3 linked regions of the Homo sapiens genome follow. The protein of the gene in region 3 purifies or fractionates together with the protein of the main gene of each other region. This does not show direct contact. Each region holds a gene or a part of one and is shown on either strand. Other genes may lie near its edges.

Region 1 (10,339 bases), on a different chromosome or scaffold from region 3:
CACATCCCACTTTCAGCCTGTATTCCATCACTCCCATATTTCACCTGGATTCTGTTCCCTCCCAAATTGCTTGTAACCCCACCCCCAACCCCCACTCCACCCGCACACATATTTTCCACCTCTCTTCCCTTTAGAGAGCCCTCTCTGAACAACCCCTCCTCTCCACTGACCCCACCACCACCGCCACTTCTAGGATTCCCCGGACCCTGAGCCCCCTCTCCCCTCCCGCCGCTGACCCTGTCCCTCTACCTGCATCCTCCATCCTTGCTTCGGAATGACCAGTGGCTCATCCTGGTGGCTGATTTCATTCCAGTCCTGAGCCTCTCCCAGTTCCTCTTCTCAGCCTCTGCCTCCTTCCTGACCTCACGCATCCCAGCGGTGCCTTCGAGGCCCCGCCCTCACCAACCCATGACGTCACCACCCCATCCCTGCGAGCACTGTGCGGCTGCCCTCCAGGCCCCATCCTGGCCCACACACCTGACCCACTTCTCGGGCCTCATGACATCATGGCGCTGGCACACTTACACCCAGTGTTTCAGCCCCCAGCTCTCTCCCTCTCATCATTCACTAGGATGACCCCTTTCCTTTCCAGCGTTACATCACCACCCCTGGCTCCACCTTCCAAATGGCTCTCCCCAGATAGCTCACAGATTTCACAGCTCTTACCCCGGGGCCGGAGCTGAAAACTCTCCACGCTGGGCTCACCAAAGACAAATCTACATCACTACCTCCCATACCAGACACGGGCAAATCACTGCCCTTGGCAGCCCACACCTGATGGCTGTTTCCCCACACTCTGCAGCTCCCCACCACCGCCAACACATATTCCAGCCCAGCCATACCCTAGATGGGCTCTCTCCTGCAGCAGCCCTCCGCCCCACATTCACACGCGTGGCCTGGCCTGGATGACCCCCTTCCCGACCCCATTCTGACCTCACCTCCCCACCACGTGGGTGAATTGAGGCTGGATAGAACCCCCCCTTCACTGCCCCAGAATACAGACCAAAGCCTTCCACATTGTCCCCATAGACTGTAGAGACAGAGAAGCCCTCTGGGGAACCAAGCAATGAAATCTCTACGGTGCACACTGCGGCACCCCAGTTCCCCCTGGGGCATCAACTCCCTCTCCCACTGTCTCTCAAAGGCAAACTTTTGCCTTAGATAAGGACCATGCACACTTATTAACCCAATGAATGACTCACCCTAAATTCTGCTCTCTGGTGGGTATTATAACCATCCCCATTATACAGAGGATGAAACTGAGGCTTGTCTAGGATCCCACCATGAAAGACAGAAACATTCGTCTTCCTTCCCCTTACCCAGCTGACCTTCCCTGACCACCTCCTGTTTCCTCCCAGAACTAACCCAAATGCGGCCTCACACCTTAAGCATGGCACATGCTGCAGGCTGGGTACTTCTGGGTTCAGATTCCAGCTGCCTTTCTCCTTGGTGTGTCCTTGGGCAAAGTACTTGCCCTCTCTGGGCCTTCCCCCATCAGTAAAGCGGGATAATAAGAGCTCCTACCTTATAGGGTTGTTGTTGAACTAAATTATTTAGTGTATATAAGGTGCTTCAAACAGTGGCTGGCACTCCCTGTTACCATCTGTGTGATCTGTTGATTATTTGACAGACCAGGAGCCCGTGAGGGCAGAGCCATTTTAATCAATCTTGTATCTTCAGGGACTGCTTGTGAATTTAACGGGAGATGCCAGGGAATGGGGTTCTAGACACTGGGGATACAGCCAAGGTTTTCTCCCCTCGGCTCATTCCCTGTCATCCTCCAGGTCTCAGCTCCAATCCCCTCTCCTGCAGGAAGCCCTCCCTGACTCCCAGGCTGGGTCAGGAGCTGTCTCAATCACCACAGTGGCCCCAGCAAACTCTGAACCAGCCTAACAGTGTTTCTCACAGTGATGGCCAAGGAACATAATCCTTACCACAAGTGCTTATGAAAATGCAGCTTCCTAGGTCGGGTCCCAACTATACACAAGCAGAAACTCTGGGGGTGGGCCCAGAAATCTGCATTTCCTCCAAGTTCCTTCAGACACTAAAGGTTCCTTCTGCCCTTGGGCGCCACAATCTGCCCAGTTTATTCCCCCACCTCCGACCCTACCACCCCACACATGACCCTCCTAGTTCAGCAACCCTGCCCCATACCACAGGGAGACCCCAAAGGGTGGTGAGGACAGTATAGGAGAAGCAACACTTTTTAAACACCATGTGCTCTTCTAGGTGCTGGGTTCCATATTCACATGGAGTCAAACACTCTAGTGGGGAGGTCCAAGAAGCCCAGTGGATATAAACCAACAGTAATTGATGTGAGGACCGGGCACAGTGACTCACGCCTGTAATCTCAGCACTTTGGGAGGCTGAGGTGGGCAGATCACTTGAGGTCAGGAGTTCGAAACCAGCCTGGCCAAGATGGTGAAACCCCATCTCTGCTAAAATTACAAAAATTAGCCAGGCGTGGTGGCATATGCCTGTAGTTCCAGCTACTTGGGAGGCTGAAACAGGAGAATCACTTGAACTTGGGAGGCGTAGGTTGTAGTGAGCTGAGATGAGGCCACTGCACTCCAGCCTGGGTGACAGAGAGAGACTCTATCTCAAAAAATAATAATAGGCCCAGCGCAGTGGCTCACGCCTGTAATCTCAGCACTTTGGGAGGCTGAGGTGGGTGGATCACCTGAGGTCAGGAGTTTGAGACCACCCTGGCCAACATGGCAAAACCCCGTCTCTACTAAAAATGTAAAAATTAGCTGGGCATGCTGGCATACACCTGTAATCCCAGCTAGTTGGGAGGCTGAGGCAGGAGAATCACTTGAACCCAGGAGGTGGAGGCTACCGTGAGCCGAGATCGCGCCACTGCACTCCAGCCTGGGTGACCCGCAAGAGTCCATCTCAAAAAAAATAATAATAATAATCTATATCAGGTAGTGGTGTTATGAAGAAAAATAAAGCCAAGTGAAGGGCCATACAGTGACAGGAGTTATTTTAGCTTGAGTAGTACTTTAGCAAATGCCTGGTTGTGAAGCTGACGTCTGAGCGGAGACCTGAAAGAGGTGTGGAAGAAGCCACACAGACACCTGAAAAGACCTGATCCAGAAGGACAGGACAGCGAGTACAAAGGCCCTGAGGTGGCAGTGCGTTCAGGGACAGCGAGTACAAAGGCCCTGAGATGGCAATGTGTTCGCTATGTTCAAATGACAGCGGGGAGGCCAGGGTGGCTGCAGCAGAGTGAGCCAGGGGAATGAGAGAAGTGATGGGAGTTGAGGGGAGGGAGGAGGAGGAACCCAATAGGTTGGGGCCTCGTGGATATGGTGAAGACTTTTGCAGTGTAATGTGGGAGCCAGGAGAGGGTTTGAAAGGAGAAACAACCTGACCTGACTTCTGTTCTACTAGTATCCCCCTAACAGTGAGAGGCAGAGAGCCCACCTGGAAGGCCACTGCAACAAACCAGGTAAGAGCAGGAGACAAACTGAGGCCAGAGTGGTAGCAAAGGAGCTGGTGAGGCATGGTTGGATTCTGGATGTGTTTTGAAGACAGAGCTAATGCGATCTGCTAGACCATATATAAGTAAGACAAAAGGGAGAAGTGAAGAAGACTCCAAGCTAGCCAGGCACGGTGGCTCACGCCTGTAATCCCAACACTTTGGGAGGCTGAGGCGGGTGGATCACCTGAGGTCACGAGTTCAAGACCAACCTGGCCAACATAGTGAAACCCCTTCTCTACTAAAAATACAAACAATTAGCTGGGTGTGGTGGCGGGCGCCTGTAATTCCCTTGAATCTGGGAAGTGGAGGTTTCAGTGAGCCAAGATCGCGCCATTGCACTCCAGCCTGGGCTACAAGAGCGAAACTCTGTCTCAAAAAAAAAAAAAAAAGAACACTCCAAGCTTCTTGATCTTAGTACCTGGCAGGATGAATGTCCCATCAACTGGGTTTGGAGGTTGAAAGGAAGAAATCGCAAGATTGGTTTGGGACAAGTTTATGTCTGAATGTCAGATGAACTTCCAAAGAGAGAAGAGTCGGCCATGATATGAGTCTGGAGTTCAGGGCAGAGATCCAGGCTGGAAATACACACGTGGGAGTTCTCATTAGATAAAGAGGGTGAAGCTAGCCAATGGTATAGACAGAGATGATGTCATTCTACTGATGATGAAGCTGAGGCACAGAAGGGTTAAACAACTGGCCCAAAGCCACAGTAATGATCAGTGGCAGAGCCAGGATTCAAATTCGGGATTCAACCCGACGCCAGAGCCCACATTCTTAACCATCAGTAGAGTAAGTTTAAGAGTTAATTCACCTAAAACACTTGGCAGGTGCACAGCACATAGCAAACGCCACAGGCATAATAGGGCTTCACATCTCTTTAAAGTACATGCTCATCCCTGGAGGTCTCCTTCCCTCCCTTCCTCAATATTGCTTCTTCCCACGACTTTCACCCAAATCAAAGCTTGTAAAGCATAGTGCGCTGTAATAACCCTCTGCCTTAAAACCTCCTACTAAATCGCCACGCTGCATTCCAAGGACGTCTCTATATTTTACCATCTGCTGTCTCCTGCTTTACAACTTTCCCCATTGAAGACCCTCCTGCGATATACAGATCACCCCCAACTCACATGCTGCGCTCAGCCTCACAACCCCTCAATCAAGCGCCTACCCTTGTTAAAGGGCACCCTCCCTCCCGATTCCTACAAGGCCAGGTCAGCTGCCCACCGCAGCCCACTCTCCCCCGAGAGAAGCCCCTTCCCCTCCACCTAAGACCTCCACCACGGCCCGCGCAACCGCCACTCCCGCGGCCTCTCACCTTCTCCACTAGCAACCCTCCTCGCGAGCGGTTCAACTGACGAAGCTCCAGCCCCGCCCCAGGATCCGGCGTTCTCGCTTCTGATTGGTCACAGCTTACCAGCAGCCAAGTTTCCATTAGCCAAAAGAGACGCCCATCACTCTGTCCCTCCCCCAGAGGAGAACCCGCCCTCCAAAACTTCCAATTGGCTAACTAAGAAGAGGCTGTCCCAAATGGGTTGGGGGAGGCACCTAACGTCGGGCTCTTCTCTAATCACTACTGGCTAATAATGCTGCCAGTCATACAAAAAGGTTGTTCCCCAGAGTGGAAGGGAAAGAATCCCGGAAGTAGCCCCTTGACTCCACCTATTACCCCCTGCGGGAGGGTAGGCCGCGCCCACGTGGTGGGGAGGGCCTGGAAGGGAGAGCCGGGTGTGCATGCGCATGGGGAGATAGTGGCCGCGGCTCCGGAAACTGGGGAGTGGTCTCAGCATAAAGACAGGTTGAGATTTGTCATCGCTTGGTGCATTCCAAACCTGCACTAAGCATTTTGCAGGACTTGGCTTATTTAAACTTTATAACAGCCCTGCAAAGTTATTATGATTTCCATTTTACCACTAAGAAAACAGTCTCAGAGAGGTATAGCCACTAGCCCGGGTTCACACGGCTTTTGAACGACCCATATTTTAAACCGATCAGTCATGAACTGGAAGGATCCAGCTAAAGGAATTGAGCGCGGGGATGGGGGAGGAGGGACCTCTTTAAGAAAGGAAAATAAAGTTTAAAGAAAAAAAAAAACTGACATGAAAGTTTACTTAGAATATGAAATAATAACAAATTACATATTTAAAAGAGCCAAATACCACAAACATTGCAAAATCCCAAAGGATAACGTAATGTTTTTATTAATTTTCTGCCTGACACACCTCTGTGATGTTTCCTACTTTTTCAGCTGCATGTTTCACAATATCCTTGTCTACAAAGAGAAAAGTAAGTTATCTTTCCTCTAGCGTGGTTGATGGAACTTTTTAAAAATTCATTATAATTTAGAACAAGTTTCAGCTTCACAAATCAGTATTGGTGATGTTATTGAAGTCTTTTGGAAATCTAGAAAAACTTCTGGCCAGGCGCGGTGGCTCACACCTGTAATCCCAGCACTTTGGGAATCACGAGGTCAGGAGTTCGAGACCAGCCTGAACCACCTGGTGAAACCCTGTCTCTACTAAAAATATAAAAAATTAGCTGGGCGCAGTAGCGGACGCCTGTAATCCCAGCTACTCAGGAGGCTGAGGCAGGAGAATCACTTGAACTCGGGAGGCGGAGGTTGCAGTGAGCCAAGATCGTGCCACTGCACGCCAGCCTGGGCAACAGAGTGAGATGCCACCTCCAAAAAAAAAAAAAGAAAAACTTTCATAAAGTTTCATTCACATGTTAACTATGTTTTGGAAAATGTTTCCACAGACTAACTTCTGGCTCAATACTTTCAATTTTTTGTTTGTTGGTTTCTTTGTTTGCTGAGACAGGGTCTCGCTTCATCGCTGGGCTGGAGTGCAGTGGCATGTTCATGGCTCACTGCAGCCTTGAACTCCTGAGCTGAAGTGATCCTCCTGCCTTACCCTCCCAGGTAGCTGGTACTACAGGCACACGCCATCACATCTGGCTAATTTTTTTTTAATTTATTTTTAGTACACATGGGGTTTCACTATGTTGCCCAGGCTGGTCTCGAACTCCTGAGTTCAAGCAGTCCTCCCACCTCAGCCTCCCAAAATGCTGGGATTACAGGTGTGAGCCACCGCGCAGGCTTCCTTTCAATTCCTGACATTTCTGTTACACAGATGCTTCTGGAATGAGCCGCTAAAAGATACATTCATGCCATTTAGTAGGCTGTGGCCTCGCATCTAGTGAGTTAGTAACTTACACAACAGAAGCATTCCGGGAAGCCATTTCTACGCCATGACAACTAATTAGGTGGTTTAAGTATCCGAGAAGTATCTATGAACCACATAAAAATATCCCTGTAAACCCAATCTAAATGTATTCTCACTTCACCTTCCCCTCAGCTAAATCCCATAAATGCCTGCACTCCAGCTTGAGTGACAGAGCAAGACTCTGTCTCTAAGAAAATAATTAATAAATAAATAACAATTAAAAAAAAAGGAAACATGGATTAGAATCTGAAGGCTTTCCCTTGCCAGCTGTGAGACCTCCCACAAGTCATGCCTCTTCTGGGAACTTCACTTTCTTCATCTGTAAGTGGAGTTCAATTCATTGCTTCACTTATTTCTTCACTCACTTGTCAGGCCATTTATTGAGCACCTGCTATGTTCCAGGCACTTTTCTGGGTGCTGGAGGTAGAAACATCTGGTAACAAACAGGAAAAGCTCATACCCTAGTGAAAGGAAGGCAAATAATAACATATAGTAAAGAAATAGGCCAGGCGCGGTGGCTCACGCCTGTAATCCCAGCACTTTGGGAGGCCAAGGCAGGCGGATCACCTGAGGTCAGGAGTTCAAGACCAGCCTGGCCAACATGGCAAAATTCTGTCTCTACTAAAACTACAAAACTTAGTTGGGCATGGCGGTGCATGCCCGTAATCCCAGCTGCTTGGGAGGCTGAGGCAGGAGAATCGCTTGAACCCGGAAGGCAGAGGTTGCAGTGAGCTGAGATCAGGCCACTACACTCCAGACTGGGCCACAGAGCGAGACTCCATCTCAAAAAAAAGAAAAAAAAAAAAAAGAAAGAAAGAAATGTCCAGGTCCGGGGTGATAAGTGCTACAGAGAAAATAAAGCAGAGTGAAGTGGATGGAACTGGGGGTTAGAGGGGTGGGAAGATGTCTCAGAAAAGCTGATTTAGAGCAGAGACCTGAAGCAAGTGACTGAGCCAGGAATTTATTTATTCATTTATTTATTTTGGAGAGAGAGCCTCACTCTGTCGCCCAGGCTGGAGTGCAGTGGCGCCTGACTCACTGCACCCTCCACCTCCCAAAGTCAAGCAATTCTCCTGCCTCAGCCTCCTGAGTAGCTGGGATTACAGGTGCCTGCCACCAGGCCTGGCTAATTTTTTTGTATTTTTAGTAGAGATGGGGTTTCACCGTGTTGGCCAGGCTGGTCTTGAACTCCTGACCTCAAGTGATCCACCTATCTCAGCCTCCCAAAGTGCTGGAATTACAGGTGTGAGCCACCACACCCAGCCTATTTATTTTTTTTATTTTTATTTTTATTTATTTATTTATTTATTTTTGAGATGGAGTCTCGCTCTGTGGCCCAGACTGGAGGTGCAATGGCGTGATCTCAGCTTACTGCAACCTCCACCTCCTGGGTTCAAGCAATTCTCCTGCCTCAGCCTCCCAAGTAGCTGGGATTACAGGCACATGCCACCATGCCTGGCTAATTTTTGTATTTTCAGTAGAGATGGGGTTTCACCATGTTGGCCAGGCTGCTCTCGAACTCCTGAGCTCATGTGATCCACCCGCCTCGGGCTCCCAAAGTGATGGGATTACAGGCGTGAGCCACCGCTCCTGGCCAAGCCAGCCTTGAGGGTACCAAGGTGGACCATTGCAAGAAGATGAGACAGTGAGTACAAAGGCCCTGTAGTGGGAACATGCCTGGTGTTTCTAAGAAACAGCAAAGACATCAATATTGAGTGTGTGGAGTGTGACAGAAGATGATGTCTGGGAGGATGCCTGAGACCAGGTTATATAAGGCCTTGTCGGCCCTTGTGAGGCCTTTTGTTTTACTCTGAGTGAGGTGGGAGCCATCGAAGGTATTAGGCAGAGAGGACATAATTTTACTCATGTCTTTTTTTGTTTTTTTTTTGAATCAGGGTCTCACTTTGTCACCCAGGCTGGAGTGCAGTGGCTCCATCTCGGCTTACTGAAACCTCAGCCTCCCTGTTTCAAGCAATCCTCCTGCCTCAACCCCGCGAGTAGCAGGATTACAGGCATGCACCACCACACCTGGCTAACTTTTGTATTGTTAGTAGAGACGAGGTTTCGCCATGTTACCCAGGCTGGTCTGGAACGCCTGAGTTCAAGCAATCCACCCGCCTCAGCCTCCCAAAGTACTAGGATTACAGGGGTGAGCCCCACCGCCTGGCCTACTCATTCATGTCTTCAATGATCATTATGGTGGCTGCATTAAGAATAGGCTGTTAGCTACTCGGGAGGTTGAGGCAGGTGGATTGTTTGAGGACAGGAGTTCGACACTGCACTCCAGCCTGTGAGAACCGATCTCTAAAAATAAAAATTTAAATTAAAAAACTTAGGCTGTTAAAATAATGTGGACATGGAAAACAGCCAGTTTCTCAGAAAGTTAAACAGAATTAACACATGACCCAGCAATTACACTCCTAGGTGTATACCTGGGAATTAAAAACTGGTATTCAAATACTTGTACATGGATGTTCATAACAGCATTATTCACAATAGCTAAAAGGTGGAAACAACCCAAATGTCCATAAATCTATGAGCAGATAAGGCCAGGTGCAGTGGCATGCCTGTAATCTCAGCACTTTGGGAGGCCGGGGCAGGCGGATCACCTGAGGTCAGACGTTCGAGACCAGCGTGGCCAACATGGCAAAACCATATTAGTCTCTACTAAAAATACAAAATTAGCCAGGCATGGAGGCGCATGCCTGTAATCCCAGCTACTCAGGAGGCTGAGGCAGGAGAATTGCTTGAACCCGGGAGGCGGAGGTTGCGGCAAGCCAATATCGCGCTACTGCACTCGAGCCTGGGCAACAGAGCAAGACTCCATCTCAAAAACAAAAGAAAAAGAGAAAAGAAATGAAGTGCTGATAGATGCTACAACATGGATAATAAACCTTGAAAACATGATGCTAAGTGAAAGAAGACAAACACAAAAGGTCACATAGTGTATGATTCCATTTATATGAAGTGTCCAGAAGAGGCAAGTCCACAGAGACAGAAAATAGTGTTGTGGTGCCAGAGGCTGGGGGAAGGAGCGAATGGGTAATCACTGTTTAATGGGTGTGAGGTCTCCTTTGGGGGGTGATGAAATGTTTTGGAACTAGATGGAGGTGATGATTGCACAACATTATGAACGTACTAAATGCCACTGAATTGCTCACTTTAAAATGGTTAATTTTCTGTTAATGTGAATTTCACCTCAATAAAAAAAGAATTTAAGCAACAGATTAAAAAATCATTAGAATGAGAGGTGATGGTGGCTTCCACGAGGGTGGTGATGGCGGAGGTGGTGAGAAGTGGTTAGAATCTATTCTGAAGGTAGAGCTGACAGAATCTGCTGATGGATTGAGTGTCGGGAGGAAGAGAAAGAGAGGAGTCAAAAATGATTCTAAGGGTCCTGGAGTGCAGTGGCGCGACCTCGGCTCACTGCAACCTCCGCCTCCCGGGTTCAAGCGATTCTCCTGCCTCTGCCTCCCGAGTAGCTGGGATTACAGGTACCCGCCACCACGCCTGGCTAATTTTTTGCATTTTTAGTAGAAATAGGGTTTCACCATGTTGGCCAGGCTGGTCTTGAACTCCTGACCATAGGTGTTCCACCCGCCTCAGCCTCCCAAAGTGCTGGAATTATAGG
Region 2 (10,068 bases), on a different chromosome or scaffold from region 3:
GCAGGGTGGTTAGTGAGTACAAATTCCCTTACTCTTCCTCTCTAATTCCCATCTACTTTTAATGTAGGCACATGGTACTAATTGTACCCCAGGACTCTCCTGCCATCTGTAGTAACTAGGTAGGAAAAAAAGAAAGCCCAACATGGGAATTTAACAGGTTGATCTGGCAATGATGACTTTCAGAACTGAGTGGCTTTTGCTCCTATCTTGCCACACTGTAACAATGTGACACTCTCTCCCTATAACTGCAAAAATTTCTGGAGCTGTAGATCTTGGGGTTCTTCACTGGATTTCCAAAAGTGCCTGGCAGAAATTTGCCTTTATTAAAGTCATGCACTCTCCTGGCAAAATCTCCCAAAAGCAAGCACTTTCTGAAATAATTTTCTCCCTAGATTAAATGTTTGTGTACCAAAGTACATATTAATATACAGGTCAGTGTAAGACAGAAATAGTTTATGTATCAAATTGCCCCAAGCTTTGAGTCAGGAGAGGGAGGGTAACAGTGTCTTTCCTCTGAGCTTCCGGCTTACAGCTGGTGGCAAAGCTGAGCCTGGCCTGACTTGTTCATGCCTCTTCACCACCTGTAGCCCACCCCAATCCCAAAGGGCTTCACAAGAATTTGTTAAGCAAATGTCTACAGCAACCTTATTTAAAGCTAAACCCTTTTACGTGCTTTCAAATGCTACGATCTAAAGACTTCTGGAAACTCTTTGATTTATTCCCCCATTTTTCTTAATCTACAATCTGCCTCCCATGGTTTCTCAGCATTGACTAACACCAGGCACTTCTGATAAATGAATAAATCTATCTGAAATGTCCATGAGAAAAATCTACTCTCAATCAGGAATGGAACTTTTGTGCCTGTGCATTACATTCCTCAAGATTACCATGAACTTGAAATGTAACAATATGGATATTACATACAATATGTATGTACAGCAATATGTCAATGAAAATATATTGCAAAAAATAGAGGAGAGACAAATATTGTTCACACATTGTGTAGTAGCTCTAAAAGCCCTTTCTACAAAGTAGTTATTTGGAAAGATAACAATTCATCACTATTTATGGTACAAAATTTTGGCTTTTGAAATCCAAGTTTTAAGTATCACAAAGCATATCTCTGTTATTTCAAGCATACATATGGAGACGAACACACAACACAAACACACACACATATTCATCTACTTTCTAATAATTTATGTACATTCTTCATAATAATGAACAAGCTGGCCTTATACCTACTTAAATCTCAAAACTAGTGCATATACTAACACCTGCCTCTACACCTTACTGTAGGGTAAGCCATCCACTTTCCAAGCCAGCCTTTTGAAGCTATAGCAAATCAAATTTTAGATCCAGAAAATGAATGCATGCTTTGGAAGTACTGTCATTTAACTTAAAGACATGAAGGACTTGAAAAGGCTACTTTACATCTCATCAAAACCATAGAAACTGTCAACAGAAAATCAGAAGATTACAGGCTGCATTTAAGCTAAATTCAGGGAAATCCTCTTACAATGAATTCAGAGTATGCCAAGAAAGGTGACTATTGGGAGAATTCTTTTTCCCTTCTCTTCCTTCTAATCCCAGCTTCTCTTGGTCTTCACCATCCCCCCACACCCCTAATCCACTCATTCTAATACCTCCCTGGACCAACCAGACAAATTGGTACTTAATCTCTCTGCCTCACCATCATCCACTCCCTCTGACAGCCCTCTACAGAAGAGTTGCCACATCATACAGCCAAAGCAAACTTTAGCTTCAGTATGATGTCTAAATACTACAGCTTTATCACTTGTGACATGCATTTCCAGAGGATCCTATCACATAGGTTCAGTGCAAGTACCAGAAATATTAACTAGATAATTTCCACTGTAGACAGTCCAGAGTATAAACAGAGACAGCAGATAGTGGTGACTATGATAGCCCCTAGAGGCCTCAGAGCTTTTTAAGAAACATCACTCATATAGGATTTCAAAAGAAAAATTTCCCTGTAGATGATACAGCAGAGGCCATTTCTCCTTGAGTCTCATAACATTACTCCCTAAAACATAATCCCTATTCCAAGGCCTGTCCTGTTTCTCTACAAATCTGTGTTTTAGCATTAAATATTAAGACTAATCCTCACTTCTCAAACAATTTTATGGACAAGGCTTCATGCCTCTGAAAATGAAAAATAAAACAATTCTTTAGTGCTATTTTTCTAGAGAGGAAATAGCAGATTATGATCAAATTGTGGATACTATATATACTCAGTTTACCAGATAACTCTTGTCACTGTTAATGACTCAATAAAGCCAAATCACAGGATATTGGGGGATGTGTAACAAATGCATGAGTTTGTAGAAGACCCCCTGACCACTGTCTCACCTCATTTTGAGAAACAGCCTCATTTTTGAGAATAATCAGGTTCCCAGCATTCTGACCACTTTGGCCTGTGAGATTCCTGCTGTCAGTCACTGCTGCTTGGGCTCCCGAAGGCCCTGGTCCTGTCTGGGCCCCTGTATTGTAAAACATGAAAGTGTCACTCCCTGAGCCTGCTGTCAGACAGGCCTTGTAGCAGTAGGTCTTGGTGAGGGAGCCATTCCCTCGAACTTCAATGAAGTGAGGCTGCACTTTGAGGCCATGCGGTATCCTGGCATCAATATTGTTGTTGGCTTGTTTGTACAGTTCTGCAGGGGACCTTTCCCTTACTCCACAGAAGCCTCCACAGCATGCAGTGCCATACGCAGTGTAGCGGTAGCACTTGATGATGCTCAAAATGATGATTGTCAAAAGAAATATAAAAGACACTGTGCTTAATGCTATTATTAGATAAAGGGTAATTTCAGAGTATGTCCGAGGGCTCTTAACATGCCTCTGAGTGTCAGGGAGGATTTTGGAAACCCTATCCACCACAGCTACTGTAATGGCCACAGAGGCTGATAGTGATGGCTCTCCATTATCTCGGACCACCACGGTCAGGTTGAAAGTGCTACCACTCTCATCTCCCATCTTCCTGGTAGTCCTAATTTCTCCTGTGTGCAGCTCTACCTTAAAGAGGTCCAGGTCAGAAGTCTGGGCTAGATGGTAAAAAAGCCAAGCATTTTGCCCAGAGTCTGAGTCCATAGCTATGACTTTGGTGACCAGGTAGCCAGCAGGGGCAGTTCGAGGCACCATCTCGAAGGCTGCTGACGAGTTGGTTGAGGTAGGGTACAGAATGTGAGGGGCATGGTCATTCATGTCCACCACATATACGTTGGCAGTCACAGTGCTGCTCAGTGGTGGGCTCCCCTTGTCCTGAGCCTCCACAGTCACAAAGAACTCCCGAAACTTCTCATAGTCAAAGGAGTTGACAGCATAAAGGCTGCCACTGGCACTGTTAATGGAGACATAGGAGGTGACTGGCAGCCCTTGAATCTCCCTCTCCAGAAGGGAGTAGGTCACCTCTGCATTCTCCTTTTCATCTGGGTCTGTGGCTTGCACAGTACAGAGCAACACACCTGGCAAATTGTTCTCCTGTATGTAGATGGAATAGGAGTCCTCCAGGAAGCTTGGTGGATTGTCATTGATGTCAGAGATCTCAACCTTCAGTGTACGCAGGGATGTGAGCTGCGGTATTCCCCCATCTGTGGCTGTCACCGTGATGTTGTAGACAGCCACCCGCTCTCGGTCCAGTGGGCCGCTCACCACCAGTGTATAGGAGTTTCCAAAGCCATTCAGTCGGAAAGGCAGTGTGGCCTCCAGACCCAGGCTCACTTTCCGGTTGGGGCCTGAGTCTTGGTCATTGACACTGAGAACGGCCACAATGGTGTTGGGTGTAGCATTCTCAGGCACTGGGCTATACAGGTCCGTGAGCACCACCTCTGGGGCATTGTCATTCACGTCCACGATGTCCACCAGCACCTTGCAGTGACCTGCCATGGGCACTGGACCCCGGTCAGTCGCCTGCACATAGATCTGGTAGGAGGAGGCTTCCTCATAATCCAGCCCCCCAATTACTCGCACTTCCCCGGTACTGGCATCTATGCTGAAGAGCTGCCTCTCCCGGTCCGACGTGTAGCTGCTCAAGGAGTACCTGAGCTCACCATTGGAGCCCTCATCCGGGTCTGAGGCATTCAGCTTCACCACCAATGTGCCTGGGGGTGAGTCCTCCCGTAGCTGGACGCGATAAGTGGACTGGTCAAAGGCAGGAGAGTTGTCGTTAGTGTCCAGGACACGCACAGAGATCTGTGCCGTACCCGAGCGGGCTGGGATGCCCCCATCCACGGCTGTGAGAACCAGGTGGTGCAAGGCTGCCTGCTCCCGGTCTAGGCCCTTACGCAGCACCAGCTCAAGCACTTTACTGTTCTCCTGCAGGGGCTTAAGGTCCAGCTCGAAGTGCTCGCTGGGGCTGAGCTCGTAGGTCTGTACTGAGTTGGCGCCCACGTCGGGGTCCTGCGCACTCTCTATGTGAAAGCGCGCTCCAGGCGCCACCGATTCGCTTACCTGAAGCTGGTAGTTGGGCCGCGGGAAACGCGGTGAGTTGTCGTTGATGTCCAATATTTCCACCTCAACGGCGCTCACCGCCACGGGGTTGTGCGCCAGCACTTCCAAGCTGAGCAGGCAGCGAGGCCGCTGCTCACACAGCGCCTCCCGATCAATGCGCTCGTTGACGAAGAGCGCTCCACTCGTCAGGTCCAGCTCCAGGTAGCGCGGACTGGGCGCACCCAGATGGTTGATGCGCAAGCAACCCGGCCCCAAGCGCCGCAGCTCAAGCCCCAGCGCGCGAGCCACGTTGCCCACGAGCGCGCCGGGTGCCTGCTCCTCTGGCACAGAGTATCGCAGCTGGGAGGCCGCAGGGCCAGGTAGCAGCAGCAGCAACAGCAGCAGGAGAGGCAGTAGCAGCAGCCAGGGCATGGGCCGCCGGAGCCGTGGATGCTCTGTCGCCGCAGGTCTGGTGCCCGCCTGCTCCATAGCCACTGGCCGCGGCGGAGGCAGCCGGGCAGGGCCGGAGGCGGCAGCTTCCCCAGCCGTGCCCCACGCCCGGGCCCCGCCTCCGCTCGTGCCACCCTGCGCCTGCTCCCCCACCGCTCACGCTCTAGAAAGCGCCTGGGGCCGCTCCCTCCGTAGGCCCTCCCAAGGGCTCCTGGCCCCACCGTCCTCGCTGACTCCCCATATTCCAGCTCCTCCGCTCGCCTCCGAGTCGCTCAACCCGGCTCGGCTTCCTGCTGCTGCTGCCGCTACAGCTCCAGGGGGAGGGAAAAGGAAACAGAAGGGAAGACAGAGGGGGAGGGGGAAAGGGAGCGGTAGGAGGGCTCAGCAAGTCCTGCTCTGATTCCGCGCCGAAGTGGCGGACAGCGAACCCGGACTGCTCAGCCTCTCCAGCCCCATCTCCTTCACCCTGGACCTGCCGGATCCCAGCGGACCGCAGGAACACGGCCACTCCCTTTCTCCCTACCCCCACTGTCCAGTTCATCCAGTCTCCACCGTCTCTCCCCTGCTTAACGGGTCTTTAAGGAGATTAGTCTGGGAAAAGCAGTCAAGCCCCTAGAAGTCTGGCTATCAGCTCCCCAGGAAAAGATCTCCAAGCGCAATTCAGGAAAATAAACTGAGGGGCCTTAGCTAAGTATGGGCACCCAGGCGGCGGATCTAACATTAAAAGGAAACAACGCAGGGGGAGGCGCTCTGGGGTTACTGGCGATGGGAACTATTCACCTGACTCCCACATCTTCCCTGGACACTCTTAAGTACTGCAGAAAGTGCTCAACTCCTAGGGCAAAAGGAGGGGGATGGCAAATGCTGCCCTCTTTCCGGGAGCAAGCCTAAAACCAGCATCCTGGGATCCAAGACTCAATTCTGCTCTCGGCCAAGTGGCCCTTATTTTCAGTGTGTGCCTTGGCAAATAACCAATATTTAAATGTTTAAAATGCTCTGTTTAAAAAAATAGTCTCCATGAAGCTGTAGGCAAATCTATTATTTGACCCATTTTGGCGACAATGGGGAAAATCTGGTAAAATTTTTAAAGAGATTCTTCTCTCAAGCTTTTTCTAATCTTGCTTCAAATCTTTTACATTTATCACCCAAGACATTTTCTTTCAAGAGTAATTTAAAATTTTTTCTTTAATGGATGACAATGTCTTCAAGAGTCTGCAAAACCATTAAATCAAGAGCGTTACTGTTGATCTCCTAAGCCAGGCTGGAATTTGGATTCCATTAATGCTTTGCAGTTAAAAAAAAAAAAAAATCTGCTGTCATTAAGCAAAATGTGGGAGTCTGGGATTTATCTTACAATAACCAGCAATTTCAATGACTGCAGCTTATCTTCCTTAAATATAAGACTCCTTAGACTTCTGTTCTTCTGTGTCCCCAAGTTTCCTCTTGTACTGCTATAGAGGCAACACAGAGACAACAAATTCACTTCAGTAAAAGAGAAGGTAGAAGGATCAGAGGAAATCTTTCCATGCTGTGTCATTGCCTCTGCTGCTCAGTTCTGAATATTCACTCTTCCCAGGTTCTCACATTTCTTCCACAGGAATTTGAAATCTATTGCCTCATGTGCAAAAAAAGCACTCACTAAAACGTCCTTTCTCTTCATCTCCCAGTATTCTGTCATCTGTAGATCTTCCTCTATGGGTCATTTTCTAGCTATGGACTGGAACAAAGTCAGAGTGAGACCTGACATTTGGCATGCTTCCCTCCTAGAGCGGACAGTTAAAGGAGCCAAGGTTGTGATCCTGACACCCAGAATTCAAAGGCCTGAACTAGCACATCCCTTCGTTCCACCAACCAAGCACACTCACTATCAATGCTCCACTACCTAGCCAGTGTTATTCCAGAGAAGCGCCCAGCCTCCTATCACTGCTGCTTCTTATTTGTCCTCTTTGTTTCCTCAAGGGTACAGAGTAGGAAGCAATTTTCATCAAAATCTATTCCTGTCTCCTTTCTTGGGTCTCTGGCTTCTTCCTCTTCTCTCTGCATCCTCCCCAAACATCCCTACAATAATTCTGTCTCAGTTTGCTGTGGTAATTTGATCTCGGAGGCCTTAATCTCTCAAGTGCACAAATTGTGGACCTGGCCTGTGTCCTCACCCATTACTTGTTTCTGAAAATAAATGGCTTATAAGTGGAATCAAGTTGTAAGTTGTCATGAAAAGTGATCTTTCCTCCCCTTATCTCCTCCCAGCCCTCCAAGTCGCTGCCATCTCTGCACGCAGCTCAGAGACCTGGCCACTGGGTATTGACCAGGCATAGACCTGTGACTGTGAAAAAATCATAGGCACTTAAGGAAGAGATTACAGTGGCAGAGGCTTGGTAATTTTTTAATGGAAGCCCCCAAATGTCATGTCTTGGGAGAAAAACCAGGACTCTCCTTTCAGCACTCTTGTCATCTTCCAGCAAGGACACCTGCCAGGTTGTCCATTATGCTGTTTTAGGCCTTGTAGGTATTTAGCTCCAGCTAGAATTTACTGCCTTAATTATTAAGGAGTCAAATATAAAGCCAACACAATCAGCCTCATTTTGAAAGACATTGTACTAAAGAGATGGTATACTCTATTTGGCACTATAATGATTTCGTTCCTCACACCATTATACTGAGGCTCCTGCCAACCTTACTAGTTGTTAGAATGTGATTGCTCAGACTGTTGTTAATTACCCTTTCTACAAATATTAACACTAATGCCTTGACCACACCATTATGCATTCCTTTCCTTGGACCTTCAAGAGCTCTCTATTAAAAAGTAGAACACAGTAATTAGGAATATAGACTTTGGAGTCAGTCACACTCCTGCCAGTGACTAACTGTTTGGCTATGGACATGTTACTTAGCCTAAGCTTCACTTTACTCATTTTAATTAAGGAAAACAATAGTAAGCAAAACTCATACGGTTATTATTATGATTACATGAGAAAATGTATGTAAAGCAATTTGCACAGTGACTAGTTAAGTACATTATTGTTGTTGTTGCTGTCGTCATGAAATACAACAATTTATTATCATCAGATAAAACCTTAGTTGGCAGTCTATATGTAGCATGGCCCTTTAGATATCAAACACGGATAAACACATTTAACTATGCCATATAGGAAATCAACCATGATAGGGAAGATGCGTATGCAACAAAGTTAAGCTTTCCCAATTACGTCTAGAACTATATCCTACATTTTGAGAACAAAACCAGAAAACAGCCCCTTTTTATATCATGAAGTAAATGGGACTTCTGTTATGAGAACCCCTTCAAGAGATTTGTTTCCTCACAAGAGATTTACCTTTTTAGAAAACACAGAAATACTTTAGCAACAGAGTATGAAGTTAGTTCCTAAACATGCTGTAATCTACAGCATCCAGTAGGGAGCTTGGCACAGAGGTGCTCAATTAATGTTCTTTGAAAAGAACTAAATTTACAAATTTATCTGTGTAATTCTAATACAAACAGCTTCTTATTTTCTCTCCTCCTTATAAAATCTTACATACATTTCAAAGTCCAGATGAAAACCTACCTAATCCATCAAACAGTGTCTACTCTAAACACGAGGTTTTTTTTTTCATTTTCACAGTCTACAGCATATCTGTAAGATGGCATGTGTCATTTTTAAATTCATCCAAATAATTTAATATTATCTCTTTAATTATAAGCAACCTGAAAGCAGGAGCCATGTCTTATATTTCTGTCTCCTTCACAATGTAGAAACCCTTATAGACTCTCAATAAATGTTAATTGCTTCATTTTCTTCAGATCTTATTTTTAGTAAACTCAAGCTGCTACAGAAAAATTTCCTATATAGGGATAGAGCATATCTTATGGAGAGGAGGTTGAGAAGTATCTGTCAAATAGGGAAGGAGCTAGTTTTCATTTTTTAATTCATGTATTTATGTTGCTCTACAAACCGAGCACAAGTTATATAATAAAAAAGAGACAAATGGTCATCTCTGATGTTTAGAGTTGTCCAAAGTAGTTTTTAAAAATTCCATCTTGTTAAAAACGAATAGGATTCCTGATCTTCATGCATCCCCAGAAGGAAAATACTTTCCAATATGATTATAGCATTATTTACAGATAAAACATCCAGTGGATGGGAAGATGAAAAAGTTTTCACATAACTTGATGGCTAAATTTTTTCACATCTCCCTTCCTCCAGAAGAAATATATCAGTCAAATATTTGGCATTAACAATTGGCTTTTAGGGGGAGATCCTCTACATTTTTAGTTCTAAAAAACTAATATATTATTGATAGTTGGCTGAGGTGTCTGAAAATTGCTTAGAATAAACAAAGAGATTCAAGCCATAAGAGATTCAAGCCATCTTTGGATAAGTAACAATAAAAAGGGAGAGACAGGTTTGGGGCAGATTGCGTAATATTAACAGATAAAATCAAACTAGCCAGTATTGGGGGGAGTTTTACTTCTTTATCAGTATTCTCAATTGAGATGGCCTAACAAGAATCATAGAATATTAAAGGTTGAGGTTTTTTAAATTATAAAATTATTTTTCATTGAAGAAAATGGTTAAGTGAAACTTGAACCTCAAGATCAATAAGGAGATAGGAAGCATAAAAGTGATATAAGTGGCCGGGTGTGGTGGCTCACGCCTGTAATCCCAGCACTTTGGGAGGCCGAGGCCAAGGTTAGGAGATCGAGACCATCCTGGCTAACATGGTGAAACCCCGTCTCTACTAAAAAATACAAAAAAATTAGCCAGGCATGGTGGTGGGTGCCTGTAGTCCCAGCTACTCGGGAAGCTGAGGCAGGACAATGGCGTGAACCCAGGAGGCGGAGGTTGCAGTGAGCCGAGATCATGCCACTGCACTCCAGCCTGGGCAACAGAGCGAGACTCCATCTCAAAAAAAAAAAAAACTGATGTAAGTAAGTCAATTATCTGTGGCCAGATAAATGATCTTCCAAGGCACTGAAATAACTTACAGATGTGACTAGAGAACCCAATTTCCTATCTTTTAAAAAGTGCCATTAAGCTTGATATAAATTCCTTCAAAACTGTAATATTACTAAAGTGATTGTTTATGAGCACTTAGAAATGAAGGCATTCATACTAAGGACTACTCCGGCTTAATTAAAAACTGGTAACTTCAAACTAACCACATAGACTT
Region 3 (10,215 bases):
CGGGTTCACACCATTCTCCTGCCTCAACCTCCTGAGTAGCTGGGACTACAGGCAATCGCCACCACGCCCAGCTAATTTTTTATTTTATTTTTTTTTTAGTAGAAGCGGAGTTTCACCATGTTAGCCAGATGGTCTCAATCTCCTGACCTCGTGATCCATCCGCCTCGGCCTCCCAAAGTGCTGGGATTACAGACGTGAGCCACTGCGCCCTGCCTATCTTACCTATTTCAAAAGTTAAACTTTAAGAAGTAGAAACCCGTGGCCAGGCGTGGTGGCTCACGCCTGTAACCCCAGCACTTTGGGAGGCCGAGGCGGGCGGATCACGAGGTCAGGAGATCGAGATCATCCTGGTTAACACAGTGAAACCCCGTCGCTACTAAAAATACAAAAAATTAGCCGGGCGTGGTGGTGGGCACCGGCAGTCCTCGCTACTGGGGAGGCTGAGGCAGGAGAATGGCGTGAACCTGGGAGGCAGAGCTTGCAGTGAGCCGAGATAGTGCCATTGCCTTCCAGCCTGGGCGACAGAGCGAGACTCCACCTCAAAAAAAAAAAAAAAAAATAGAGACCCGGAAAGTTAAAAATATGATAATCAATATTTAAAAACACTCAAGAGATGGGCTAAAGAGTTGACGGAACAAATCTAAATATTAGATTGGTGACCTGCAAAACCAGCCCAAGGAACATCCCAGAATGCAGCCCATAAAGATAAAGAGAGCATTTCCGCTGGGCACAGTGGTATGGCAGGGGAATTGCCTGAGTCCAAGAGTTGCAGGTCACATTGAACCACACCATTGCACTCCAGGCCTGGGCAACACAGCAATACTCTGTCTCAAAAAAAAAAAAAATTAAATTAAAAAAGACAGAATATTTGAGAGAAAAAAATGCTTATTTCAAGAAACATGAAAGATAAATCAAGATATTCTAATTCCCAAGTAAGAATAATTCCAGAAGCAGAAAATAGAATAGAGGCAAGGAAACACTCAAAACTTCTCCAGTGCCATAGAAATGTGTATTAATCTTTAGAATGAAACGGACTACCAAATGCTGAGCAGGAAGAACAAAAGAGATCCACTCTTAAGCCAGTGTGGTGCCCAAGCGCAGTGGCTCATGCCTGTAATCCCAGCACTTTGGGAGGCCGAGGCAGGTGGATCACCTGAGGTCAGGAGTTTGAGATCAGTCAGGCCAACATGGTGAAACCCTGTCTGTACTAAAAATACAAACATTAGCTGGGTATGGTGGTGCACATCTGTAATCCCAACTACTTGGGAGGCTAAGGCAGGAGAATCACTTGAAACCAGGAGGTGGAGGTTGTAGTGAGCCGAGATCATGCCACACTCCCAGCCTGGGTGACAGAGCAAGATTCCATCTCAAAAAAAAAATCCACTCCTAGACAAATAATAGTTAAATTTTAGAACACCAAGGAGAAAGAAAAAAAATTGTAAAGCTTCAGAGAAAATAAACATTAACTACAAAGAAACGAGAGTCAGACGCGTGCACTTCTTCCTAGATACCAGCAGATAAAGCAATATCTCCAAAATTCAGAAGGTTTTAACGTAGAATCCTATACCCAGTCAAGAATATTCACATGGAAAAGTGAAATAAAAAACATTGTTTAAACATGCAAGGGTTCAGAAAGTTTACCATTCACAGAATCCCTGAAAACAAAACCAAATAATCACTTAAGGACTCATTAAGAAAACAAATGAAATAAAAGCACCAATGATGAGTAAATAATCAGAAAAATTTACAGTTTACCTAAATAACTGTTTATGCATAATGTATGAAAACCCAAAAATTTAATATGGGACAGAATTAAAATCATGATAAGATTCTTTTTTGCTTTACTCATGGAGAGTTCACATAAACAGATTATCTTTTAATAGCAAGAGAAAAAAATGTTTAGATATGTGTGAAAAACTAAGGGTACCAAAACAGTGCAAATTCATTTATCATCAGGAAAATCCAAATTAAAACCACAGTATCCACCAGAATAACTAAAAGGTAAAAGACAGAAATTACCAAGAGTTGGCAAGAATGTGGAGCAACCACATATACTTCTGGGGTAAATAAGTTGGTGCAACCGGTACTGAAAACTGTTTGCTAGTATCTACTAAAACCGAGCACATGCACAGACTACAACCAAGCAGTTCCACTCCCAGATACACACTCAACAGAAATGCACACACTCACTCAACAAAAGACGTGTACTAGAGTGTTCATGTACTTACTATTCATAATAGTCCAAAAATGCAAACAACCAACTGCCAATCAAAGTCAAATGTATATCTATATTAGGGATATATACAATGGCATATACACAGCAATGAGAATGAAATGAACCAGCTCGGCACAGTGGTTCATGCCTGTAATCTCAGCACTTTGGGCGGGTAAGGCAGGCAGATCACTTGAGGTCAGAAATTTGAGACTAGCCTGGCCAACACGGTTAAAACCTGTCCCCACTAAAAACACAAAAATTAGCCGGGCATAGTGGTTGCAGGCCTGTAATTCCAGCTACTCGGGAGGCTGGGTTGGGAGAATCGTTTGAACCCGAAAGCCGGAGGTCGCAGTGAGCGGAGATCGTGCCACTGCACTCCAGCCTGGACGATAGAGCAAGACTCCGTCTCAAAAAAGGAAATCAAAAATATAAAATAAGATGACAGGAATAATCCGCAAAAGATCAGTAATCAAAATAAATATAAATGGGCTAAAGCTACCTATTAAAAGACAAAGATTTCACACCCATAAGGATAGCTACTATCAAAAAAAGAGAGAGAATAACAGATGTTAGCAAGGATGTATGGAAACTGAAATTCTCACGCATTGCTGGTGAGAATATAAAATGGTTCAGCCTCTGCGGAAAACACTATGCTGGGTCATCAAAAAATTAAAAATAGAAGTACTACTTGATCCAACAATTCTACTTCTGGGTATATACCCAAATAACTGAAAGCAGGGTCTTGAAGAGATATTTGTACACCCATGATCATGGCAGCATTATTCATAATAGCTATGATGTGGAACCAACATAAATATCCTTTGATAAATATATGGATAAGCAAAATGTGGTGTATACATTCAATGGAATATTAATTAGCAATAAAAATGAAGAAAATTCTGACACATGCTACAACATGGATGAACCTTGAGGGCATTACATTAAATGAAATAAGCCAGTTATAAAAAGACAAATACTATATGAGGTACTATATTAGATACTCATGCAAGGTACCTAAAATAGGCAAATTCATAGAGACAAAAAGCAGAATGGTGGTTGCCAGGGGCTGCGGTAATGGATACAGAGCTTCAATTTTGTAAGATGAAAAAATTCTGGAGATTGGTTGCATAACAATGTGCACACACTTAACACTGGGGAACTGTAAACTTAAAAGTAGTAAATGGTAAAAATAAAAATAATAAATAATAAATTTTATGTTATTTTACCACAATATTTATTAAAAGACAAAGATTAACTAATTAAACAAAATCCAGCCATAAGCTAATGGTAAGAGTAACAATTAAAGAAGACACAGAAAATTGAAAATCAGTGACTAGAAAAAGATATTCCATATAAATGCTAACAAAAAGCAAGTACAGCAATATAAAGAGAATGAACAAAAAAAAAATTAAATAAGATGGCTCGTTTATTCCCAAAAGGTACAATTCACCAAGAAGATACAAGAATTGTGAACCTTTAAGCACATAAAACAGCTTCAAAAATACAACATTTAAAGAAAAATATATATTAAACATAGAAATAGTACAAAAACCCCTACAAGAATCATAATGGGAGTCTTCAATACAACTCTCCATATCAACAGGTCAAACAGAGAAAAAAAATAAGTTAAGGATGCAGAAAACCTGAATTACCATCAATAAACTTGAGATTAATATAGAACTGTATACCCAATATACTAAGAGTTCAGGGAACAGTCGTGACTGACAGTGGACTGCAAATTAATCTGTTCTTAATCTTTGTTTTTCTTTCAGCACTGTGGCAGAATAGAGATCCTAAAAACCTTCCAGCTACAAAACATCTTTTTAAAAATATAAAAAAATACAAAAATAACTCTGAAATCAATAGAAGACACATGGTGAAACCAAAATTCTAGAATACAGGGAGAATAAAGGCATTTTCAGATATTACAAAAACAGAAAATTGATCATTGCTGAAGTAATTTCTAAAGAATGTACTTGAGGGAGAAGAAAAATGTTCCAAAGAAAAGTATCTGTGATACAAGAAGGAATGGAAAGTGAAGAAATGGTAAACAGGTAGATAAAGCTAATAAATGTTGACCTAGAAAATAACAAAAACAATAGCAATAATGTCTCGTTGGAAGGGTTGAAGTAAAAATACAATTAAGGCCAAATGTGAGGTAAGTGGAATGAAAGAATTAGAAGTCCTTGCCTTGTTCACAGGACTGATTAAATAAATGAGCCAGGTTTTCCATTCAAACAGTTAAAACTTGAACAAAATAAACTCAAATTAAGTAGAAAGATAAAAAACAGAAATTAATGTCATAGAAAAATAAAAAATCAATAGAATTAATCAATAAATCCTGGTTAATAAAAGCTGGTTCTTTGAAAGGATTAATAAAATAATCATTAAGCAAGTCTGATCAAAAAAAAAGAGAAAAGGTACCAAAAAAAGTACTGTATCAGAAAGAGAACATACAGATACATACAGATATGTAAGAGTCTGTTTTCTTACACCAGAATACTATATACAACATTATGCTAGCATATATTAAATTTCAATAATGTTAATGATTTTCTAGGAAAACAGAAAATATTAAATTTACTTTGAAGAAACAGAAAAACTGAGAAAAATAAATGATCATGAAAAAAATGAAAAGGTAATTAAATACTGATATTAACTGCCTAAACAACACCAGCAGCAGCCCAGGCAGTCTGCAGTCAAGTTCTGCCAAACTTGAGGGAACAGATAATTCTTCTATTCCAGAGCATAGAAAATGATGGAAAGTTTCCCAATTTAATCAGAGAGGACAGCCTGATCCTTGTTATGAACACAGATAAAAATGGGGTAAACTATATGCCAAACTCAGATACCAAAACCCTAAATAAGATGCTAGCTTATTGATGTGAACAATCCAAAAGTGCATTTTAAATTAGCCCAGGGTTTTAGAGAAAGAAAATCTAGCAATGTGACCACCACTTATGTTAACAATTTTAAGACGAAAATCTACATGATCATATCAATGCATGCTACACAAAAGCATTTGGGCAAAAAACCCAACACCCACCCTTGACTTTTTAAACTCTTAGTAATTAGGCATAAACAGAAATGTACTTAATGTGATAGAATACACTCGGTGAAGATACAGAGGGAATGCTCCCTAAAACCAAGCCCAAGACAAAGATTCCTATTTAACCTCAATAGTCAACACTGCAGCGAGAGTAATCTATGGAAGACAAGGAAAAAAGTAAAAACATGAGAGACATCTGTTGTTTAACAGACAATAAGATCACCTACTTGGAAGAGGCAAACGAATCAAGCGAAAAACTATTAAAACTGAGACAGGCTTTAGTATGGAGGCTCAGCTTCAGCTGTAGTTTGGGCTACCAAATTCAACTCGCTTGCTTGGAGAGTTAATCCTGCAAAGCTAATTTCTGTTGAGGTATTAGGATTGACAAGCCTGTGCTCCTCCCTCCTCCCCCATCTTCAACACTGAAATAACACGGTGTTTGGAACTGGATAACAGAATCTTCCAAAAACAAAAATTGTCCTGAAGGGCTGACTTGTGCCCTTACTCAAAAAACACTTTATCTGCTGCCTGCAGCTCCTACAGTTGCTGGTGGATAAGCCTGCCAACCAGCTCGGCGTAATTCTTCCTGCAGAGGGCAAGGAAGAGCACTTTCACAGGAAAATTTTTTTCCGAACTGTATGCCGCTTATTACATAAACTTACGTGCTGGCAAATGGAGCTCCAGCAAAATAAGATATTCAGAGTCAAACTTCCTTAGGAAAAAAAAAAAAAAAAAGCAAGCACATAACACTAATTTCCTTGCATGGGCACTGGGGAAGGAGGTCGTTACTTCCGCACGCCCGCAGGTCCGCACCACCGGGAAACCCACGGGCACCGCGCGCTGCCCCCGGGCCTTCCAGGTGCACTGCGCCGCGGCGCCCCAGCTGACCCGGGATGCGCAGCCCTAGCCCTTCCCCTGTCACCCCGGCCAGGAAGGGGCGGGAGCGCGGCGGACGCCGAGGGCGAAGGGCTTCTCGGTCCTCTGCACCACGCAGCACCCCCAAGGCACAACAGGGAGGGTGCGGGAGGCTCCCGAGACCCAGGAGCCGGGGCCGGGCGTGCCCGCGCACCTGTCCCACTGCGGCGAGGGCTGGGGTCGCCTCCAGGGCCGCAGCTGTCGGGAGCCACCTGGCTCTCAGTCCCGGGTCCCTGCGACAACCCTCGGGCCCGGAGGGGAGGAGGCGGCCACCTGCCGCTGCCACCTGCGGCACCGGTCCCACCGCTCCGGGCCGGGCAGGACAGGCCAGGACGTCCCTCCTGGGCTGGGGACAGGACACGCGACGAGGGGACCGGGGCCCCCGCGGCGAAGACGCAGCACGCCTTCCCAGAAAGGCAGTCCCGTGCCCCCACGACGGACTGCCGGACCCCCGCGCTCGCCCGCCCATCCCTTCAGACCACGCGGCTGAGGCGCAAAGAGCCGGCCGGCGGGCGGGCTGGCGGCGCGGCTAGTACTCACCGGCCCCGCTGGCTCAGCGCCGCCGCAACCCCCAGCGGCCACGGCTCCGGGCGCTCACTGATGCTCAGGAGAGGGACCCGCGCTCCGCCGGCGCCTCCAGCCATCGCCGCCAGGGGGCGAGCGCGAGCCGCGCGGGGCTCGCTGGGAGATGTAGTACCCGGACCGCCGCCTGCGCCGTCCTCCTTCAGCCGGCGGCCGGGGGCCCCCTCTCTCCCAGCTCTCAGTGTCTCATCTCCCTATCTGCTCATCCTCTGGTCGCACATAATCGATGTTTGGGCGTCCCAAGCCAGATGTGGACCCCATTTCCGCACTCTACACTGGAGGTTTTCTAAGGGTGGTGCCCGGACCAGCAGCTTCAGCCTCATCTGGGAACTTGAGAAAATGCAGATTCTCCGTCCCACCCAGCCTATTCGGTTTTTCCTGCACTAAAACCATGAAGGTGGGGCCCAGCAGTCCACATTCTCGCAAGCCCGTCAAGTGATTCTGAGGCGCCCTCCAGTTTGAGAGCTATGCTCACGGCCTCACCTCCGCCCCGCAAGGAGCCCGGTCTTGCCTGTGGCGCTAGCCGCACACGGACACCTCATCCTGCGGGGCCCGCCCCCCCGCTGCACCCTCACCGCCCAACGCCTCCTCCGGGATGCAGCGGAGGCGCCTGGAAGTCGGCAAGGTCAACATCCCCCTCAGCATCTTCCCTACCCTCACGGCTCCTCCTCCAGGGGTGCCTCATGGCCAGGGGTTAGAAAGAGCCACTGTGTTTCTTGACATGGAAGTGGCCTAAGACCTTAATGAAAACTGCAGGAGTGGAATGACAGAACCTTTGGTCATACTTGAGGGCGTGAAGCTCAAATGAGGAGGAAGGAAAGGATCCAGGGAGAATAACCAACCCTGGCAAGTTGTGGCGCCCAGGTAGAGGGGCGAGCCTAGGCTAGCGGTTCTCGACCAGGGCCGGTGTTGCCCCTCCTCGCCGCCCCGCGTACATTTGGGGAGGTCTGGAGACATTTTTGGTTGTCATGATGCGGGAGTTGCTACTGTTGCCTAAGTGGGTAGACACGAGGGTGCTCCTCAACATCCTACCTGAAGGACAGGACTGCCCCACAAGGAAGAATGATCCGGCCCCAAATAAGAAACCCTGGGCTGGTCAGCAACAACCCCTTTGTTCTGAGAAGAGAGGAGGAAAGAATAAAAGAAGTGGGGTGAAGTTTTGGTTTGGTAGAGGAAACTTGAAGACATTTTCACTGGAAAGGAAGAGAGGAAGAGGAGGGAGATGTCTGTAAGGACGAGCAAACCGGGTGACAGCTGATTTCCTCATATTGAAGTAATGAGTCCTAGTTATAATAAATTCCTAATAAAAACCCAGTTTATCCCTGCAATAAACTTGTCTTTTTTTTTTAAATATACTGCTTGATTCTGTTTGCTAATATTTTATTTACAGGCTTTGCATTGATATGCAAAAATGAGATGGGCAATAATTTTCTTTTTGAATGTCTAATGTTGTTTGGTTTCAGAATCAATGTTATGCTCACATCATAAAAAATTTGGAACCGAGGCAGGAGGAGTGCTTGAGGCCAGAAGTTCGAGACCAGTCTAGGAAACACAGTGAGACCCCCCCATCTCTACAAAAAAAAAAAAAGAAAAAAAAATGGGCATGTTTGCTTTTTCCTTTTACTCTGAACAATTTAAGGAGCATTAAAATTATCTATTCTTTGAGGTTTGATCATTTCCCAGTTAAAAATGTTCCTCCCAGCCTGATGCTTTCTTTGGGGAGGGTAAATCTTTTAAGGCTAGAAAAGTTTCTTCTGTGGCAATTTTATTATTTACATTTTAAAAATTATTCTAGAGTTAATTTTGATAAAGCATGTATTTCTTAAAACAAATTATCCTTTTTTTCCAGATGTTCAAGTGTATTTGCATAAAGTTGAGGAAAGTAGTCTTTTGTGAATCTTTTAACTTCTCCCAAATATCTTATTTTGTGTATTTTTGCTTCTTTATTTTGTTAACTTTTAAAAGTGTATTTTTTTTTCAAAGAATCAGCTCTTAGGTTTATGTTTTTGGTTATACTGGAGCTTTTTTCTTCTTCTTTTTAAAATATTTTTTCTCCTTTATTTTTTAGACGTATTTTGATCTAACGTAATCGGAAGAAGGTAAATTAGAATCTTTTGTTACTATTGTGTTTTTATTTCTCCTTATTTCTCTGAAGTCCTGCTTTATAAATAGTACCATGTTATTTGTGCATAAATATTCATTTGTCTTATATTCTTGGGAATTTTCCCACTTCATCATAAAATGACCTTCCTTGTCTCATTTAATGTGTTCAAACTTTGCCCTGAATTTAACTTTGTCTGATATTTTACCATCCTGCTGAATTTTGTTTGTTACCCCAAACAACCTTTGCTGTTTTCGTCTTTTCTGAACCCTTTATTTTAGGTAATCCCTTGAATTAGAGCACTAAGTTTTGCTTTGTGATTAAATCTGAAAATCTTTATCTTGCCATAGATGAGTTGAGCCCTATTCATGTGACAGCTATATTATGCTGTTTCATAGCCCTTTTGGTCCTTTTTTCACTCTTGCATTGCATATTTTGTGTTTATTGTGTTTTGTGTTTCTTCTGATAATTTGGAAGGTTTGTATTTTTATTCAGGGAGTTGCCTTATAATCATACTCCGCAATACACATCGTCCTCAGTTTCTTCAGACTGTCTGTTAACTCCCTATTCTGAATAAAAATGACATTGTAATTTCCCTCTTTTTTCTTTACCCCTTTTCTTCTCCTCACCTAATGTAAATGATTTTATCCTTCTTTAGTATTTGCTTTTTTAATTAACTACATTTATAAATATCTTTATCACTTGATTTTTAAATCAGCTTTGAATGAGATATTTGGATTCCTAGATATAAAAGATGTTAATTATACCATTTCCACGTTAGTAGGTTTATAAAATCATACATTCTGCTGTGTAACCATAATCCCACGTTTGTTTTAGTTCCACTCCTACAGTTAAAAGATTCAGAAGTATTATTAACAGTTATTTTGCCATAGTTTTTTCCCCAACCCATTTTGTGGTAAGTTATGATCCTGCTTTAGTTTCTTAAGAATAATTTATAGAGCAGAGTGTGGTGGCTCACGTTTGTAATCCCAGCACTTTGGGAGACAAGAGGTAGAAGGATCGCTTGAAGCCAGCAGTTCAAGACCACCCTGAGCAACATAGTGAGACCTTGTCTCTACAAAAAATTTTAAAATTTAGCCAGACGTAGTGGCGTGTGCCTATAGTCCCAGCTACTCAGGAGGCTGAGGCAAGAGGATTGCTAGAGCCCAGAAGTTTGAGGCTGCAGTGACCTCTGATTGTGCCACTGCACCCCAGTCTGGGCAAGAAAGTGAGAACCTATCTCTTTAAAATAACAATAATAACTTATGAAAATTATATTCCCTGAGTTTTTCATGTTTAAAAATATTTGTTGCCTTTATCCTGTAAAAGTTTGAGTATAAATTCTTGGGTTAT

Evidence for each region.
Region 1: the proteins of SPECC1 (region 3) and CCDC61 purify together in Homo sapiens (tandem affinity purification; one study listed by IntAct). This does not show direct contact.
Region 2: the proteins of SPECC1 (region 3) and PCDHAC2 purify together in Homo sapiens (co-immunoprecipitation; one large-scale study listed by IntAct). This does not show direct contact.

Annotation. Positions count from the first base shown.
Region 1 is NC_000019.10:45,989,968-46,000,306, reverse strand, and holds the start of CCDC61 (centrosomal protein CCDC61), read right to left. Parts: upstream 4,841-10,339; 5' UTR 4,803-4,840; intron 1-4,802. UniProt on the Homo sapiens protein: Microtubule-binding centrosomal protein required for centriole cohesion, independently of the centrosome-associated protein/CEP250 and rootletin/CROCC linker.
Region 2 is NC_000005.10:140,961,637-140,971,704, reverse strand, and holds the start of PCDHAC2 (protocadherin alpha-C2 isoform 1 precursor), read right to left. Parts: upstream 5,230-10,068; 5' UTR 4,939-5,229; coding exon 2,374-4,938; coding exon of another isoform or gene 2,284-2,373; exon of another isoform or gene 2,225-2,283; intron 1-2,224. UniProt on the Homo sapiens protein: Potential calcium-dependent cell-adhesion protein. May be involved in the establishment and maintenance of specific neuronal connections in the brain.
Region 3 is NC_000017.11:20,005,929-20,016,143, reverse strand, and holds the start of SPECC1 (cytospin-B), read right to left. Parts: upstream 6,786-10,215; 5' UTR 6,720-6,785; intron 5,982-6,719; exon of another isoform or gene 5,927-5,981; intron 5,624-5,926; exon of another isoform or gene 5,492-5,623; intron 1-5,491.